2 separate regions of the Homo sapiens genome follow, and region 2 is linked to region 1. The links come from fine-mapping of genetic effects on gene expression. A gene starts in region 1. The other region holds a variant in brackets. All regions are shown on one strand. Distances are between the middles of the regions. Region 1 holds the start of PPIF (peptidylprolyl isomerase F). Region 2 overlaps ZMIZ1 (zinc finger MIZ-type containing 1).

Region 1 (8,321 bases):
CATGCCCGTGAGGTCCTTGCCAAGAGCTGGTGACCAAGCTTGCTGAGACAGCAGATCCAGGACTGGCTGTGCATGGAGCAATGGGATCTTCCAGGAGTCCTGGCTGGGGTGGGGTACTATGGGTATGAGTTATCCACTGCACATGGCAAATGACCCAACACTTAGTGGCTTCAAACAACAAACATGGATTATCTTGCAGATACTCCCAGAAGGCAAGCTCTGCTGAGTTGTGAGTTGCAGGGGGCTGTGGCCAGGCAGGTTGTGTGAGAGCCCAGCAGCTGAGGGTGAGCCACACCCTACTGAGCTCCACCCTACCACACTGGCTCCGCTCTCAGTGGCCCGCAGTGATCCAGATCACACGAGTAAAAGACCAGCTGGACTCCAGAGGAGAGCTTCGCCCCATCTTCCCCTTGTGGGTCTCTCTCTGATCACTGTGCCCACCACCTCCCTGGGCCTTAGTGGAACCTCCCTTCTCTGCCTCTGCCTCCCCATCATGGTCTGGTTCTTAGAAGCCAGCAGAGAGAGGATGATGAATGTACTGACTTTGCAAAGGCCACGGGGGACACTCCATCCCCAGAGAGTCCCACAGCAACCCAGTAGAAGGGTCTGGTGGCTTTCTGAGTCGCGGGGAACCTCTCTCTCAGTTTCCCTTCCCATGACAGATGCTATCCTGGACCCCAAACCCCTCAAGCATAACCAGACAGATGAAGTCCATGGCCTCATCCTACCTAAGGACCATTGTCTAGGCTGGCAGCACAGGTTGTATGACCCAGTGACTGGCACTGGTAATGATCTCAGCCTTCATGATATTTAATATTATAGAAACCCCACCTCATGCCCACACCGGGGCTACCTTCACCCCCAGCCCCTCCTGGAGGGTCTCTCCAGAACAACTGTAACTTTGTACCCCACGACAACCACAGCGTTCACTCCTGCCACACACAGGGCTACCTGGGAGAGGTTTGTTCAGCAGTTCCAGCATCTCAGGACACCATAACCTCCTGTCCCTGTCTTTGTCCTTCTGAATCCCCAGGGTGAAGCTCAGGGCTCAGAACACAGTAGGTGCTCTGAAAACATGTCTGCTGAGTGAACTTTGCAGAAAGGGCCCTGGGGAGAGTGAAGAGAGGGTCTGACCACAGTCCTGGTACTGCCCAGCTGTATGGCCTCGGGCCACTCCCCATCCTTCTCTGAGCTTCAGTCCTCTCACCTGTACAGTGGAAATCAGAGCTTACAAACTATCAGCCCAGAGTCCTCATCTAGTTTGGATACGGTGTTTACAGTTCATTCGGTGTTTAATTTTATTTTGAAATTCATTTCAAAAATTTGAAAACTAGATTTCTATAAAACTTAAAGTCTTCAGCTTTTATTGAAAGATGAGAAAACCTGGGTGGCCTGTGTGGACCCATAGTCCCATATACAATAATTGGCTGGCCTGGGCAGCAGCTACCTCTTTACCTGGGACATCCATTAGCTATCTGGATACAGTGCCACCTCCCCTCACTCCCTACATACTTACCAGCTTGCACCACTCATGTGTATCACCTGCCTGGCCCCCGCAGGCATCTGAGTTTGCAACCCCTGAATGAGATTCTGAGCTTAGCACAAACTGATTGTTCTTTGGCTTTGTGAGGCCTAGAGGTGGTGTTACAGGATCCCTAGGTGACAAAACCCATCAGCACCCTGGATAAAAAACCATGTGAGCTGAGTGGAGAGAAACACTGCTGTTTCTGAGGATAACACAGTCTATAAATAGCCTCAGAGCCAGGTGAGTGCTAACACCTGCCTGATGTCACCTGGGCCCGGAGCCCTCAAGGGCTGGGCATGTGTTCAGCTCATGGCTTAGCCTATAGACTATCCTTCTTCCTGATACCACTGAGAACAGAACAGGAAGGGATGACATCATAGCTAAGCCTTTGGGGAAGGTAGGCTTTTCTCTGGCTTAGGAGGTAGTGATGACGTTTGATTTTCCAAAGAGAGTGGAAGGAGTAACATGAATGAAAGAAGCTGGTTCCCAGTCCAGAGTCCTCAGCATGGAGTCTTTGCACTATTCATGGCTCCCCAGTGCTATCCAACAATGTCAGACCTCAGCCAGGCCTTCAGAGCCCTCTGTGATTGGGTCCCCACAGGCCTTTCAGCTCATGCTCACTATTAAAACCATCTCCCTAGTCCCTGAGCTCCATAGCCCCCTGGCCAACTCCACCGTTTCTATCTTACTGTGTTGTCTGCCCAGGCTTATCTCTCTTGCCTCCCCACCCTGTCCCAAGGACCAGCTTCGTGGTGAGAGTGAGAAGGGTTTGACATGCAATAACCCTGATTGTGAAGTCAGACAGACTGGTCCCAGTTCCAACAGCCTGCCCTTGGGCAATTCACTCCCCAGCCCCTGGGGCCTGGCTTCCCCATCTGCAAAACAGAGCTGTCTCTCAGGCAGAGTTCACAGCTGGGAAAGGGTTCTGAGAACTGAAGTGGTCAAGTGAATGAAGGCAGCACTCCCCTGGGGTGGGGATGCTCATGCTTCATCAGGATGGGGCATAAACTGAGTCCCCCCAGGAGCAGGCTTGAGAAACAACAGGGTACGCTGAGCTACCTGCTGTGGCTGAAGGTCCTGTGAGCTCAGGGCCTGGAACTGGCCGCAGGGAAGCCTGGGGCCTTAAGGAAGCTTCATGACAAGGCACATGGCGTGATTCCTCCACTCTCAAATCCACAGGATGCACTGGTAGAGGAAGGTCTGGGACATGTGCTGAGGGCTCAAGTGGGCTCCCCACTCAGGCCTGCTCACCTCAGGGCACAATCATAAGAAAGGAGGGGCTGCTCCCCAGGGCAGAGTGAGGCCCCATTCTGGGCTGGGACCTGGAATGCATCCCACCTGGGCTTCACTGGGTGCCTAGGCCCCTCCTAGGCCAGGAATCGGAGAAGGGGGCTATGAACTTCCAGAAGCCAAGCTAGCCAAACTTCCAGAGGCCAAGCTAGCATTCTTATGAAGCTAGGGCACTGCTCTGACCTCATGAATTTGCTTGGCTGGCATTTTGCTGCCTGACCTGTTCCCATGAGCCCATTCAGGATCTGGGGCAGGTCAGTCCAGAGCTGGTCCCTACTCCTGCCCACCTGCCTCCAAGGCTCAGCCCCACCCCTTTCTCTGACCCCTCAGGCCTCTAACTGAGACCGCAGCTCTCTGAATCCCAAACTGTGAGAAAGACAGTCCAGACTCTGTCCATCACAGATGCCCACAGGCACAGTACTTAGTTGACAAATCCATGTCTCTCTCGTTCATTTTATCCTAAGAACAGACACGAGAAAAAAGCAGGATGAGGAGCATGATCGCACCCTTACCCTCCAGATGGGAAACTGAGGCCCAGAGAGGCCTGGAGCACTGGTGCAAGCTGGTAGCAATACTCCAGGGCTCCCTAGCCCTAGCCAGTGCCTTCCTGTGTCCAGGCCTCAGCTTCCCCTGGGGACAGTACAAGTGTTGGGCCAGATGCTCTCTCAGGTCCCTGCGTGGCATCCATTTATTGCAGACCTCCCACCACCTTGCAGTGAGGGTGGCTCTGGCTGCTGGGAAGCCCACTTTCAGCACGTGGGGTTTAAATGCTCCTGCTGTGGGTCTCCCCACTGAGTCCCCTCCCAGGGTGCATGCTGATGGGAGGGGGCAGCTGGCAGTCTGCCCCGGGGCTGTCAGTGTGGGTCCTAGGAGGAGGGATCAGACCCAGTCCTGGGGAGGGCTGGGGGCCTGAAAGGAGCATGATGAGCCCAGGCTGCGTTTTCAGTCTTGCTAGAAGCAGGTCTGGTCCCCAGAAACAACTAGAGACAGGCCCAGGCCGGGACAAGCAGGCTAGGGGGCATCATGGGAGGTGTCTCAGCTTATCTCCTCCCTCTTGCGCCTCTAGCTCACTAATCCCGCCTCTCATCTCACCTTTCTCTAACCCTCTCAGACTGCAGGACCTAGGGCAGCAGGGAAGCTTATTTGGCCTGAGCCTTACCTGCAAAGGGCTCAAAGGTAGACTTTTGCTATTATATTCAAATTGCAACGTATAGATGCTCATATTTTGGAATTAATTACGTTTTAGCAGTTTTTCTTTTTTTAAAAAAATCTGCTGGTACCTTAATAAACATGGAACCAGCAACCTTTTGCCAGGTGTCTGTTCTCCGGGTCTCTGGGCCTGGAGGCGGGAGTGTTTCAAAGCACTTCACGCTCCGCGGCCCCACCGGCTGGCTGCGCTGCCCGCTGCGGCCGGCAGGGGTAGTCCACGGACAGGCCTGGAGGAGGCGGGACGGGGGCAGGGCCGGGAACCTGGGCAAGCCAATAAAGGCTGCGGCGCGCGGCTGCGCGGGACTCGGCCTTCTGGGCGCGCGCGACGTCAGTTTGAGTTCTGTGTTCTCCCCGCCCGTGTCCCGCCCGACCCGCGCCCGCGATGCTGGCGCTGCGCTGCGGCTCCCGCTGGCTCGGCCTGCTCTCCGTCCCGCGCTCCGTGCCGCTGCGCCTCCCCGCGGCCCGCGCCTGCAGCAAGGGCTCCGGCGACCCGTCCTCTTCCTCCTCCTCCGGGAACCCGCTCGTGTACCTGGACGTGGACGCCAACGGGAAGCCGCTCGGCCGCGTGGTGCTGGAGGTGAGACCGCTCGCAGGGCCGGCCTGGGCGCGGGACACGGGCCCGGGGAGAGCCCTGGGCCCCGGGCGGCGCGGTGCCGGGCGCGCTGGGTGACCTTGGGCCTCCCCATGCCGAGCTCTGGGCCTCAGTTTCCCCATTTCTGAGAATGGGCGTCAGAATGATTTCTTCCGGCCTCCCTCGGAGCACTGGAGCGGGGGAGACGGGAGGGAGGGCACGTGTGGAGGAGAAAGCTCAAGGTCAGATCGCAGAGAGGGAGGGCTCAGCACCTCTGGGCCGGCCCGGGCACGAGGGAGGGGCTCCAGGAGCCTTCTGGGGCTGAGCCTAGATCCGGAGCTCCGAGGTGGGTGTCGGGGGTCTTGGGGTGAGCGTCGTGGCCCAGCGGGTGCTCACGTGGCGGCCCTTGCACAACACGGAGCGCTTCCTGGCTCCGGCCCCGCCCCTGCGGTCGGGCTCACACTGGGGGTGCTGGGAAATGGAGCGAGAGGTGGTTTCCAGCAGTAGTGCGGGCCCAGTAGGCCTCAGGCCCCGGCCACCTGGTGGACCCCAGAATGCCCCTCCTGCGAGTCGGGACACACTCAGAGACAGTGTGCCCGGCGCCTCAACCCCTGCCACTGTCCTTGGGGGCCACACTGAGCACCTCCCCTAACTCTGTTTTTGGGTCTTTTCTAAAGCAAAGTAAGAAACAGTCACCAGGGTAGCTTTAGAGGGAAAGCCCTAGTGGAGCCTTCAGGTCGGCCACACATTGACAGCAGGGGTCTGTTTGTGTTGACTGGCCCGTATCCCAGGGAGCCCTTAGTATTTCTTCTTCATTCTCAGTTTCTTCTGGAAAATAGGGACACCCTTCCTGCTTCCATTTGGTTCCAGGGTGGGTCTTGCAGCTTCGAGGGTAGAGGCTGGCTGGGATGGGGCTTCAGCCTTCCCTCCCCACACCCTCATGCCTCTCCCTGGGCCTCAGTTTCCCAACCCCGAATGGAGGAGCTGGTCTGGCTTCTACCTTAGACACACTCTCTTGTCCCTGAATTTCTGATGCTTTGGGCCCAGCTGTGGGAGCACTGCCAGCTGTGTCCACAGAAGTAGGCCAAGATAGCATTGTCATCTCTTCTGACAGATTAGGAAACCAAGGCCACCTCCTCCAGCCTTGGGTTCAGGAAACGGCTCCCAGAAATGATAGAGCTGCCTCCCATGGGGGTTGGCAATAATGGGAATGGAATGTCCACGTGCTTCTTCCTTAGCCTCCTTGGCCACTGTGGGGGTGGGTGGGTGCTGAGAGACACCCACCTTCACCTGCCTCTCCAATGACCATCCTCTTTTGTCCTTCTTCTCCCCCAACAGCTGAAGGCAGATGTCGTCCCAAAGACAGCTGGTAAGACAGGGCCTGGGGCCTTCTGAGATGGGTCTAGAGGGAAGGGGGCCAGGCAGGGCAAGGTGGGTGGCGTGATGAGAAGAGTCGGGGCTCAGAGACCCCTGACAGATGGGAGCTCCATGTGTGGCTCAGCCATTGGGTGCTCTGGGGCAGCCCTGCCATCCCTCTCTGGGCCTCAACGTTGGCTCTGCCCTCCTCTCTCATAGTAGCTGGGAGCCTCAGAGCCAGTGGAAGGCACATGTAAATTTCCCGGAGACTTCCCCACTCCTGGTGCCCAGTGAGGCAGGGTGATGGGCACACAGCCCTTGAGTCCGTGCCCTGCTGGCCAGCACAGCCATGAGCCTGTACTCTTGTCACAGTGCTCAGGTACTGAGGACAGGGAAGGGGAGTGACTTGTCCAGTTACATAGCGAGTTGGGCAGAGCAGACCCAAGAGGTGGGCCAGAGTCTTTATCCCCCTGTTCACTGCTGGGGATGTAGCAGGGATTTTGGCTGGAACGGGTATGACCCTGGAATTGGGGCCTGGCCCTGTTGACCTGTGTTTCTCTTCGACCCTCAGAGAACTTCAGAGCCCTGTGCACTGGTGAGAAGGGCTTCGGCTACAAAGGCTCCACCTTCCACAGGGTGATCCCTTCCTTCATGTGCCAGGTAATGTAGTTTCCTCTTCTGTAAGGGGGGATGAGAGCAGGAGCTGCCTTGTGGGTGTGTGAAGATGCCTGGTATGAGGAAGGTGCTGAGCAGAGCAGCTGCAGTTGCTCTGTCAGCCAGGCTGCCCTCCCTGCATTAGCCCTGTATCCAGGCTTCACTGCACATGGAAGCCCAGCCCCAACCCGCTGCCACTCCAGGTCAGTGGCAGGCCCTGCCCGGGGGACTGGGAGGTGGAGTCTATCAAGAGAGAGCTGGGTTGGGAGATGGATGTGCTGGGGGTGGCCTTGAAGACTTTGAAGAGCCAGCATATTCCAGTGGTCTCTGACCTTGTCCCCTGTGTGCCCCTGAGCACTGGTGTGGGAGATAAGAGAGGGAGAGAGAGAAGTGGAGGAGGCGGAGGAGGAAGACAGGTCCAGGGCAGGAACACACACGCCAGGACTTGGGGCTTCCCTTCCCAGAGAAAGGCATTATTCTCGGTGAAATGAATGTTTTTCGGTCATGTGTCATGCTCAGTTTTCACAAGCATTGGTATTGCTGTGTCAGAGGTTTGGGGGTAGGTGTTGTAGCAGGAGCTTCCTGTGGGTCAGGACCCAGGTGGTGTTGGGGCTGGTCTTCTATTAGCACAGACCTTCAAGATCAGGGATTGGGTGTCCTGGGCAGGCAGAGCCTGGAGGCAGGGGCATGGCTGTCATGACCTCTTTGAAGACCTTCCTGCCTGGAATTCTCTCCCCATTCCCTCCACCCTGACCCAGTGGCCGTCATCGTACCGTGGTAAGTGGCAGCGGGTTGGGACTGGACGTCTATGTGCGGCGAAGCCTGGATACGGGGTGAACACAGGGACGGCAGGCCTGGCCCAGCCCTAAGGCTGATGGTAAAGTAGGAGCTGAGGTGGAAGTCCTGAGCCAGGGTGGGAACTCCAGCGCGGGAGGGCTCCCTGGCACAAGGCGGTGGCACCGGGAGTCCAGACCAGAGTCCTGAGTCATCCGTTGGGAGGGATATCAATTAGGGAGCACCTAATTGACACCTGTGGATGCTTCAGCTGGGCTGGTCAGTTCCCCTCTCTTACCCACGGATCCCATCTCAGGAAAACAGCAGCCAGCCATGGCCTGGGCTGGGCAGCGCTAGGCATAGGGGCTGCTACCAGGCTCTTCTGGCCATGGGTGCCCCATGCAGGTTTGGCCACGGCTGCCTGGGCCTTAGCTGAGGCCTGAGGAAAGATGTCAGCCTTGGGCAGACTCTGTCCTGGGTCTGCAAGGGTTGGGAAAGCTGCTGGGCTGGGTAAGGGGCAGTGCGCGGACAGTGAGGGGACTCGGCCTGGGGAGCTGGTCTGGACCAGCTGCTGGTACTCCCACAGACTAGACTCGGGAACTGGGGGGCCTCTGGCCTCTTCCTTGTTGCCCTCCAGGAGGAGTGGGTTAAATTCTGGGTCACTAAGTATCATCTCAGAATGGCCTTTAGGTCTTTTGAAGATTACTTAAAAATTTGCTCAGACAAAAAGTAAGTCATTTGGAAACAAAGGTAGTTACGGTGACAAAAGATATTTAAGTTTTGTCTTTTTTTTTTTTGCTTATTATTCTTATTATTAGCTCTTATTTTATTGGATGTTTATTGACCCCTTTACCTGAGGGGCGCCAACTGGGTGGGCTTGGGTGGGCTGAGGCTGCTGCCAGCGCCAGGGCCGTGGCCCCCGCCTGCTCCATGGTAGCCACT
Region 2 (8,321 bases), 31 kb before region 1:
GGTGGGGGCAGAGGGGGCAGCCTTGGGTCACAGCCAGGGGCAGCAGGCCATCATGGGCAGCAGAGGTGCCAGGGCTCCTACCCTGAGGTCTGGAAGATGGTGGGGGTCACCCTGGATGATGGGGCTGGGCTGCTGGATGGGGCTGGCGGGATGGGACTGAGCACCGGCCCCGCCCATGCCTACACAGAGCTGGTGCCAGACTCCGGGAGGAGGCTTGTCCTCGGCCCCTCCTGTTCTTCACCCCCAGCCCTGCTCTGTCAGCCTCTGCCCTGCAGCATCAGAGGAGCTCTGTGCTAGCTAGGACTCACTCACTGTGCAGCCATCTCAGGTCCTTGCCCAGTGTTCCCCCTCAAACCAGGCCAGTGGGGCTGCTTTTAGATGCATGAGGCTCCCCATGTGACAGACTCCAAGGATATCTCAGTAGAGGGTAGAGACAGTCTGCATCCCCTCCGGGGCCACAGGGAAGGATGGCTGCCAGCCAGCCACAGGCTCACCAAGGAGTGGCGAGCCCTTGAGAAGAGGGATGTTGGGGGGTTGGGGGCGGTGCAGGAACCACTCGCCTTCCCGCCTTCCCACCAGCCCACCTCCTTGTGCTTACACGTGAAGCATGTGATTTCAGCTGGGAGGCCCAAGTGACCTGCCATGGGGCCTTCCCAGGTTAGGGCTGAAGTCCATGCCTGAAAAGGGTCAGCCCTGCTCAGGCCTCAGCTGGTGGGCTGCGGGTCCCAATCCTGAGGCTTGAAATGAGCATGGGGGTGCCCCACACTCGGTGCAGTGGCCGGGGTATGTGTGGGGATACCTGGCAGGCCCAAGCCCAAGGCTGTTCTCTACCCCTTTTTTTGGCTAGGGTCCTGAGAGGCAGGTGGAGGGGGACGGGCCAGGGCGCCCCTGCATTCCTCACCCGGGGCCTGCCTCTCAGGCACACCTCATCTGAACTTCATTACTCCTTCTTTTCCAGCTCCTTCCCGAACTCACAAATCCTGACGAGCTCCTGTCTTATCTGGACCCCCCCGACCTGCCGAGCAATAGTAACGATGACCTCCTGTCTCTATTTGAGAACAACTGAGGGCCACCCGGTCGGGGCCATCCCTCCACACTCTGCATCCTACCCCACCTACCCAACACACTTTTCCACCTGGGAGCCTGTGCCCTCAGACCGCCCCGCACCAGAGCCACGGGCTGTGGGGCGGGGAGCCCTCCCCCGCTGCAGCCCTCTCAGAACAGAGGGGTAGGGAGGGTGCACCAGTGCACCAGGAAGGCTGTGTGGGTCTGGAGCCCACGTCCCACCTCCACACCCTTGGCTTGGGCCCATGCCCAGCGCAGGCCTGAAGACCACCCTCCCGAGAGGAACCAGCCCGGTAAGAGGGCACACGCTGATGCGGCTTCCCGGTCCCTCCGCGTGTGCCGATTCCAGATGACCTTCCAGTGTCCCCAAGGTTCTTCCATCTTCTAGACTGTAACCCTGCCTCCCTGCTTCCTGGTCCAGAGCCTCCCTCCAGTGACTGTGGAGCCTGAGAAGGCCCCCGGGCCCCAGCATGGGCCCCGAGCCTTGGAGGAGCACTGGCAGTTGGTGGCAGTGAGACCAGCCCACCCACCACCACCCACCACAGAAAAGCACAAACCTCTGGGAAAGACAACGTCTCTCGGGGGCCAGGGGTCATCGGTTTGACCCCTGACCTATAAGCCAAGATACCCCATAAACACACTCAGAAAGCAGAGAAAAAGGACAAGAGTCTGTGTTTGAGAGGGGGTCTGCCATTCCTGCTTGGGGACTGGTGGGGAAGAGGGCCAGGACATCTTCTGAGCCAGGACGTCCCTGAGGCTCCACCTCCAAGCTCAGACAGGGCCCAGGCTTGGGGAACAGAGAGAGCAGGTGTACACCCAACCAAAGTGATTGTGCCCTTGGTTGGGGGGCGCGGGCATATAACCTGTCAGAAGCAAACAGGAGCGGCAACTTCTAACTTTGCTCCAAGCCACTCTCTTTTTAAACAGCAACAATTTAAAGCTATGAAGTCACCTGGAGAAAAGGAACGTTGCTCTTGGACAGCAAGCAAACCATTTCTCTCCGTCTGTTCTGTTTTTCTCCTAGTCCCTCTCCTGCCACCTCTCCAAGACTTCCGTGGGACACCCACTTCCCTCTGTCCTAGTTCTCTTTGTCCAATCAGATGGCAAGGGCAGTGCGTGGAAAGGCCGGGGAGGTGCAGAAACCAGAGCCCAGGGCAATGGTGTCTGTCCAGCCCCTCCCTCTGTCCCTGTGCTCCAAGCTGCCCCCGGCTGCAGCCCAGGCCATGGACATGTGCACCAGTATGTACCTGCAGGCATGGGGGGGAGGGGGGCGTGTTTCTGGGCCTGCCCCAGACACTGCCCTTGGCTGCCAGCCTACCCTGCCTGCACTCCTCCACCATCACAATCTCACCCAAACTCCTGCTCACTCAAGCAAAAGCAGCCTCTGGCCTTCCCTCCACCGCTTTGCTCCATCTGGCTTACCACTCTCCAGGGCCTCCTGGGGAGCCTGTCCTGTGTTCACTTTGTTTCAGGCTGGTCTGTGCCCCGTGAGCCACATGGCCTAGGGTGATGCCAGGTTGTCCCGTCACTGGGGTCCCATCTGTAAATTCTTTGCGCCCTTCCCGGCTGCTGCCTGGGGCCCTTTCCTGCTCTCCCGTCCGCTGTGGGTGGTCCCCAGCTCTCCTCTGTGGGTTTTACCGGAAAGGTGGCCCCAGCTGTTGACTTCCAGTCACTGTCCCAGACGGCACAAGGTTTTCTGTAGGAAAGCTGCCATTGCCCCGGCCCCTTTTCTTCCTTTGTCCCGTTGTCGAGGTTTTTTCAAATAGCGTGTTGTTCAGTATGCAAATCAATTATTTTAAGAATCGCTTTTGTAAATATCTTTGTGAATATTTTAGTATCGTCTTTGATAATATTCAACATTTTCATGACCTGGTTATAGCCTTTGCTGGTGTTTTTAAAATACCTGGACTCAATGACAAAGACCGAGTCTTCTTTTTTTTTAAACAAAAACAAAAAAAGCAACCAGGGCTATTTGTACAGTTGAAGGGGTGAACAGAATGGGCGGCTGTGCTGGGAGTTGGAAGACCGGGCAGCCCGCTATTTAGAGCCATCCCTCAGTCAGCTGGCAGGGACAAGCCAACGCCAGGTAGCATGTGGCCACCCTTGCCCAGTGTCTGTGGCCTGGCAAGTGGCCACGCCCTGTGTCAGACCATCTGGGAATTAAGCTCCAGACAGACTTACAGATGCCTTCCTTAGGAGTTCTTGCTTCTTGCGTTGATACTTTGCCCCAGAAAGGCCTGGGATTCATTCTGGTTCTTATCAGGGTGTGTCCACACTCTGCTCACAGGTGGATCCACGGCTTTCCAGTGCGGAGAGTCGAGATGCTCCCTGCAGCCCAGGCCCCGGGCACCTCCTGCAACCATCTCTGGGCTCAGCACCTGAGGCGGGTTTCCTGGGTCCCCTCTCCAGCAAGCCTCCACCAGCAAGCTCGGCCCAGAGCTTCCCTTCCGGCTGGCTCTGAACCGTGCGTGGTGCCTACAGCCTGCAGTCTGGAGACAAGCTCTTCCGGAGTGCTCTGGGAGCCAGGCCAGGGTGTGAGGGAGGTGCAGAGGCATCCGGGGCGGGAGCAAGCCCCAGGTTGTGACAGGTGCAGGTAGACAACGCCCATAAACAGAGATGGTCCTGAACTCTGGAGAGATCCTTCCCTGATCCTTTCGGACGACTACTTGGAGCCATAAGTAACCTCAGCAAAAACGAGGCCTCTGCAAGCCACTTTTCCATGCCAAGCATCCACCCGGCCCACAGGCATGTTTCTGCCGCCACTCCGCAAGATGGACAGGGAGCCAGCAGGCAGGCGGGAAGGGCCAAGTACAGGCAATCACCCCCATCTTCTTGGTTTGAAGCTTTATCCATGTATCATGTTCCGTGTAGCCATTTTATTTTTTAAGAAACTGCTAATACTTTCTCCCTAATGGAAGCCCTGATCCCCCAGAGAGCTACAGGTCTGCTCCCGACGGGCCTCGGGCCTGACCCGTCCACACAGGGCCGTGTCAACAGCAGC[G/A]ACTCAAGGGACGTGTGTACATATGTAAATGAGAAATAGAGACGTGTCAACAGATGCATTCATTTCTCTTGGAATGTGTATTGTTTTTATTTTGCGAAACAAAACAAAACAAAAAAAAAAGCTTGGAACTCCATCACGTGGAAAAACTAGATCCTGTTGGTTATAGCATTTGTGAGTTCTCCACGTCTGTCTCTCTCGCTCATGTAATATACTCTGACCCTGAGTGGAAAGGGGTTTTTGTTCTGTTTTTATTTTACCTACATGTACTATTTAGCTTCAGTGTACTAGTCCTGCCACCTGTGTATTTTTAGGGTGCTATGGAAATAATGAAAAGAAACGGGGATTTCAGAAGAAAATTGTAACCAAATTCATACTTTGTATAATTTTTGATATCATGATCACAGGTGATTCACACGTACACACATAAACACACCCACCAGTGCAGCCTGAAGTAACTCCCACAGAAACCATCATCGTCTTTGTACATCGTATGTACAATGCAATCATTTCATACTTTAAACTGGTCAAAAAACTAATTGTGATTTCTAGTCTTGCAAAGCTGTATGTAGTTAGATGATGTGACAACCTCTAATATTTATCTAATAAATATGTATTCAGATGAAACCTGTATATTAGGTGTTCATGTGGTTATTTTGTATTTAAAGATCAAATTATTTGACTATTGCTAGACATTTCTATACTCTGTTGTAACACTGAGGTATCTCATTTGCCCATGTTAATTTTTTTCTAAATAAATTGACAAAAACAAAGGTTTGGCGAATTAGCTATTTTGTGGATGTTAAGGAGTGGTTTGGGTGTTTTTGCTTTTGTTTTAAACCACACCCCCCGCCCTGTTACCCTCTGCACACACAAAAAAGAAAGGCAGGTGGTTTGGGTGTTGAATTGGAAGAACCCCTGTCCATGGGGGTCCCTGGAACCAGTCCCTGGTGGGGCAAGTGCAGTGTGTGGCCGGATGGTTGGGGGAGTTGGGGTGGCTGAATAGGGCCAGGTGGCTGCAGGGTGCTAGGGGCCCCTGTGGCATGTGACTCAGAGTGTGCAACAGTGTCCCATCTTTGATGGTCCCTTGTGGATTATGCTGGGTTTAAGTAGCAGGAAGCTATTCATATTAAGCCACAGAGGGTGCTGTTCAGAGCACACAGGAGTGTGGCTTCAATGGAGAGTGAGCATTCACTGCACCCATGGCTCCCTGCTGGCATCTCAGCATCCCTGGCCTCCACCTCTCGGTACACCTGCCCCTCCCCTCCTAGGGAAGCTTGGGTTTTCCCTCCTCCGTGAGCATGCTTTACATGGGGTACTGTCTCACGATAGCCCCTGCCCAGGCCATGGTTCTAACCATCCTTCCAGCCTCGGCACCAACACAAACTGACAACACTTGATGTGTCTCCGATTGAAGTTTTAGGAACATGCATCTGACACAGCCCCGCAGCCAGTCCCTGCCCTCCCTCCACGCAGCCTCACCTTAGGGGGAAAGCAAATGTGGCTGTCATGGCCTTTCCTCCACAGGGACTGTCCACAGAGGGAAGAAGGGCCGGGCCGGCACCCCAGAGATCTCCACTCAGATGTATCCGGGTGTCAGGAGAGTGAGGGGCATGTGTGTGCAGGAGCCGGCGGTGTGGGGGAGGCTGCAGGGTGCTGCCTGTAGGGGGCTGGGTGCCTAGAAGCCCCCTGCTCCTGGGGCCTCTCCGAGGTGGCTGGAGTTTCTCCTTTTGGAGGGAGGTGGAAGGTGAGGAGGAGAAAAGATTTACCTTAAATAATGGAACACCCACCGGCCACTGCTCAGCTGCAGGCACTGCCTTCTGCCAGCATCACCAGGACAGGCTGACTCTCTCTGAACAGACACCCCTCCGAGAGGAGGGTGATTAGTTAGCTTGAGGGAGAACTTCCCGTAGGAGACATGCCCCCCTCCCTGTGCCTTAGAGCAGTGTGGTGGGGCTGGACCAGCACTTTAATAAAACAAATGAGAATACAGTAGAAAATATCAGGAGTGTGCCCTACAAAGTAAAGGGTAGCATTCTATCAAGAAACGTGTGTGTGTGTGTGTGTGTGTGTGTGTGTGTGTGTGTGTGTGTCTGCTGAGTCATGATGTTAATTCTTATTTGTGGGTTGTGGTTGAAAACAAAAAGTTTGAATGCCATTGACTTAAAGGCAGGAAGTGGGCAGGGGAGCAGGGAGGGAGGAAGGGCAGTGTGCTCCCCCAACTTCATGATAATAAGCAAACCTTCCTGGCATTTCAGCTGGAGACTCTGAACCTGGGATACAGGCCTGTGGCTGCCCCACAAGGCTGTATGGAGACTGGCCGGCCCCATCTCAGCTAACTCCTCCCCAGACGGGTGACTTCCTTCTGTGAGCCTAACCCCTGGACCAGAAACATCCACCTAAAAAGCCCAGTGGGGGCCCTGGCTTGGGACAGTTCAGAGTTCAGCCTCCCAGCATGTGGGGCCACACACTGTGGATCATCTTACGTCTCTTCTTCCTCTAGCCCACTGCAAAAAGTCTCCACCCTGAATCCACTGACTGTCTTCATGTAAGGCCATGGGATGCTATTGGGGAAATTCATTCAGCCCCACAGGTCGATGTCAGGATACACTGGGGTCTCCAGCCTCCCTGAATGCTAAGGGCACTCAATGTTTAATGGCCCCCCATTTCCCTTCTCCTCTGCTCCAGCCTCCTGCTAACCACGCCCACCTCGCTCTAAGCAGGCTACCCTACCCTCACCCAGCTCCCCACTGTCCCTGCTGCTACCCACAGACCTATCTCCATCCACCCTGGCCATATCTTTTTCCACCCAGGCCCAGAGGATGTGGTGTCCCTTCCCCAGTTGGGGCTACCCCTCCCCCAGCCCCTGACACCATCACCCCTTTCTCTTCTCCAAGGAGTCTCATTCTATCAGCCCGTTAACCCTCCCCATACCTCTGCCTCCCGCCTCCCCGGGTTTAGTGGCCCAGGCTCTGGCATTGCAAGGTTCAGCTTGGTCTGGGCTCCACCCCTTGATGGCCAGTCTCTGCTCCTTCCCATGCAGGCTTCTCAGCCACAAAACTGCCAGTGCCCACTCTCTTTCTCTGTCACCCTTCATATGCCTGGTTCATGCCCCACCAGTTCTCTGACACTTCTCCTGCAAGCTCACCAATGGCCTCTTCGTTGCTGATCCACGCTGCTTTCTGAGACTGGACCTCACAGCTGCACTTGACAGTTGCCATTTCTTCCTTGAAGCTCTCTTCTCTTGGTGCTATGGTTTGAATGCTTGTCCCCCCCACCACAACTCATGGTGAAACTTAATCCCCGGTGTAACAGTACTAAGAGGCAGGCCCTTGGGTCATAAGGGCTCTGCCTTCATGAATGGATTGATGGATTAATGAGTTGGCAGATTCATGGGTTATCATGGGAGTAGGTCTCTTATAAAAGCCAACTTGGCACGCGCTTGCCCTCCTCGCCACATGATGCCTTCTGCCATACTACAATGCATCATGAGGCCCTCACCAGATGCAGCCACCCAATCTTGAACTTCCCAGCCTCCAGAAGCATGAGCTAAATAAACTGCTTTTCTTTATAAATTACTCAGTCTCGAGTATTCTGTTAGAGCAACAGAAAAGAGATGAAGACACTTGAATCCATGACAACTTCCTCTTTCATCTGTTTAGTTTTCCTGGCATCCCTCTGTGCCTTCCTTGTCTTCTCCGCAGGTTCCTATGGTAACTAGGTACTTGTGGTGCTTCATCAGGATCTTCTTCACCGACTGGCCCACCCATCCTGCCGCTGCTACGGGTGTTGGCCGCCAACAGCCCAGAACGTGCCCCTTTATCAGAGAATTTCCCTCAGCTCACAGAAACCTCCATGCCTGACAGGTTACCTGCCCCCTATCCCCACACATGCACCCCTGCCAGGCAGCGCACAGCCAAAATTGACTGCCACAAGGAATAAAAGGCCTCTTGGCTGGGGCATGATCAGTGCTCTCAAATCCTCCCTGTGGGTCAGGTCAGGGCTAGACTTTACCTGAGGCCACATGCTAACTCCACTCTCTCCCCTTCCTTGTTCTGCCTGCCTCCCTCATAGGTTTCTCCCAAGATCACTCCCTCAATAAATCATGGAATCAGCATGCCTGTCCTATGCTCTGCTCCTATCCAGATCGAAGACAGTGGGTGCTGGGAATGGGTCTGGGAGGCAGGCTCTGAGGATAGGATGCTGGAGAGGTACCACTGACCAGATGACAATGAGGACCCACCACTAGTGGCAGGAA

The links. PIP is the estimated chance that this variant, and not a neighbour inherited with it, causes the effect.
Region 2: its variant is fine-mapped to the expression of PPIF in whole blood (TOPMed, PIP 0.90).

Annotation. Positions count from the first base shown.
Region 1 is chr10:79,343,143-79,351,463 of GRCh38, forward strand. It overlaps PPIF (peptidylprolyl isomerase F), which reads left to right and starts at 4,327. Exons shown (of 6, transcript NM_005729.4): 1 at 4,327-4,601; 2 at 5,934-5,964; 3 at 6,523-6,611. The coding sequence starts at 4,407. RefSeq lists cis regulatory regions at 3,994-4,571, 4,071-5,112, 4,071-4,744, 4,071-4,622, 4,071-4,621 and 5 more, silencers at 4,101-4,510, 4,531-4,760 and an enhancer at 6,075-6,575.
Region 2 is chr10:79,311,684-79,320,004 of GRCh38, forward strand. ZMIZ1 (zinc finger MIZ-type containing 1) reads left to right here. Exons shown (of 25, transcript NM_020338.4): 25 at 959-4,836. The coding sequence ends at 1,066. Among named protein-coding and RNA genes, the nearest start is that of PPIF, 32 kb to the right of the region's middle. RefSeq lists enhancers at 97-597, 1,355-1,854, 6,001-6,060, 6,650-7,225 and cis regulatory regions at 4,896-5,396, 4,922-5,422, 4,928-5,428, 5,611-6,111, 5,744-6,473 and 5 more. The variant G/A (reference allele first, on the strand shown) is at 4,067.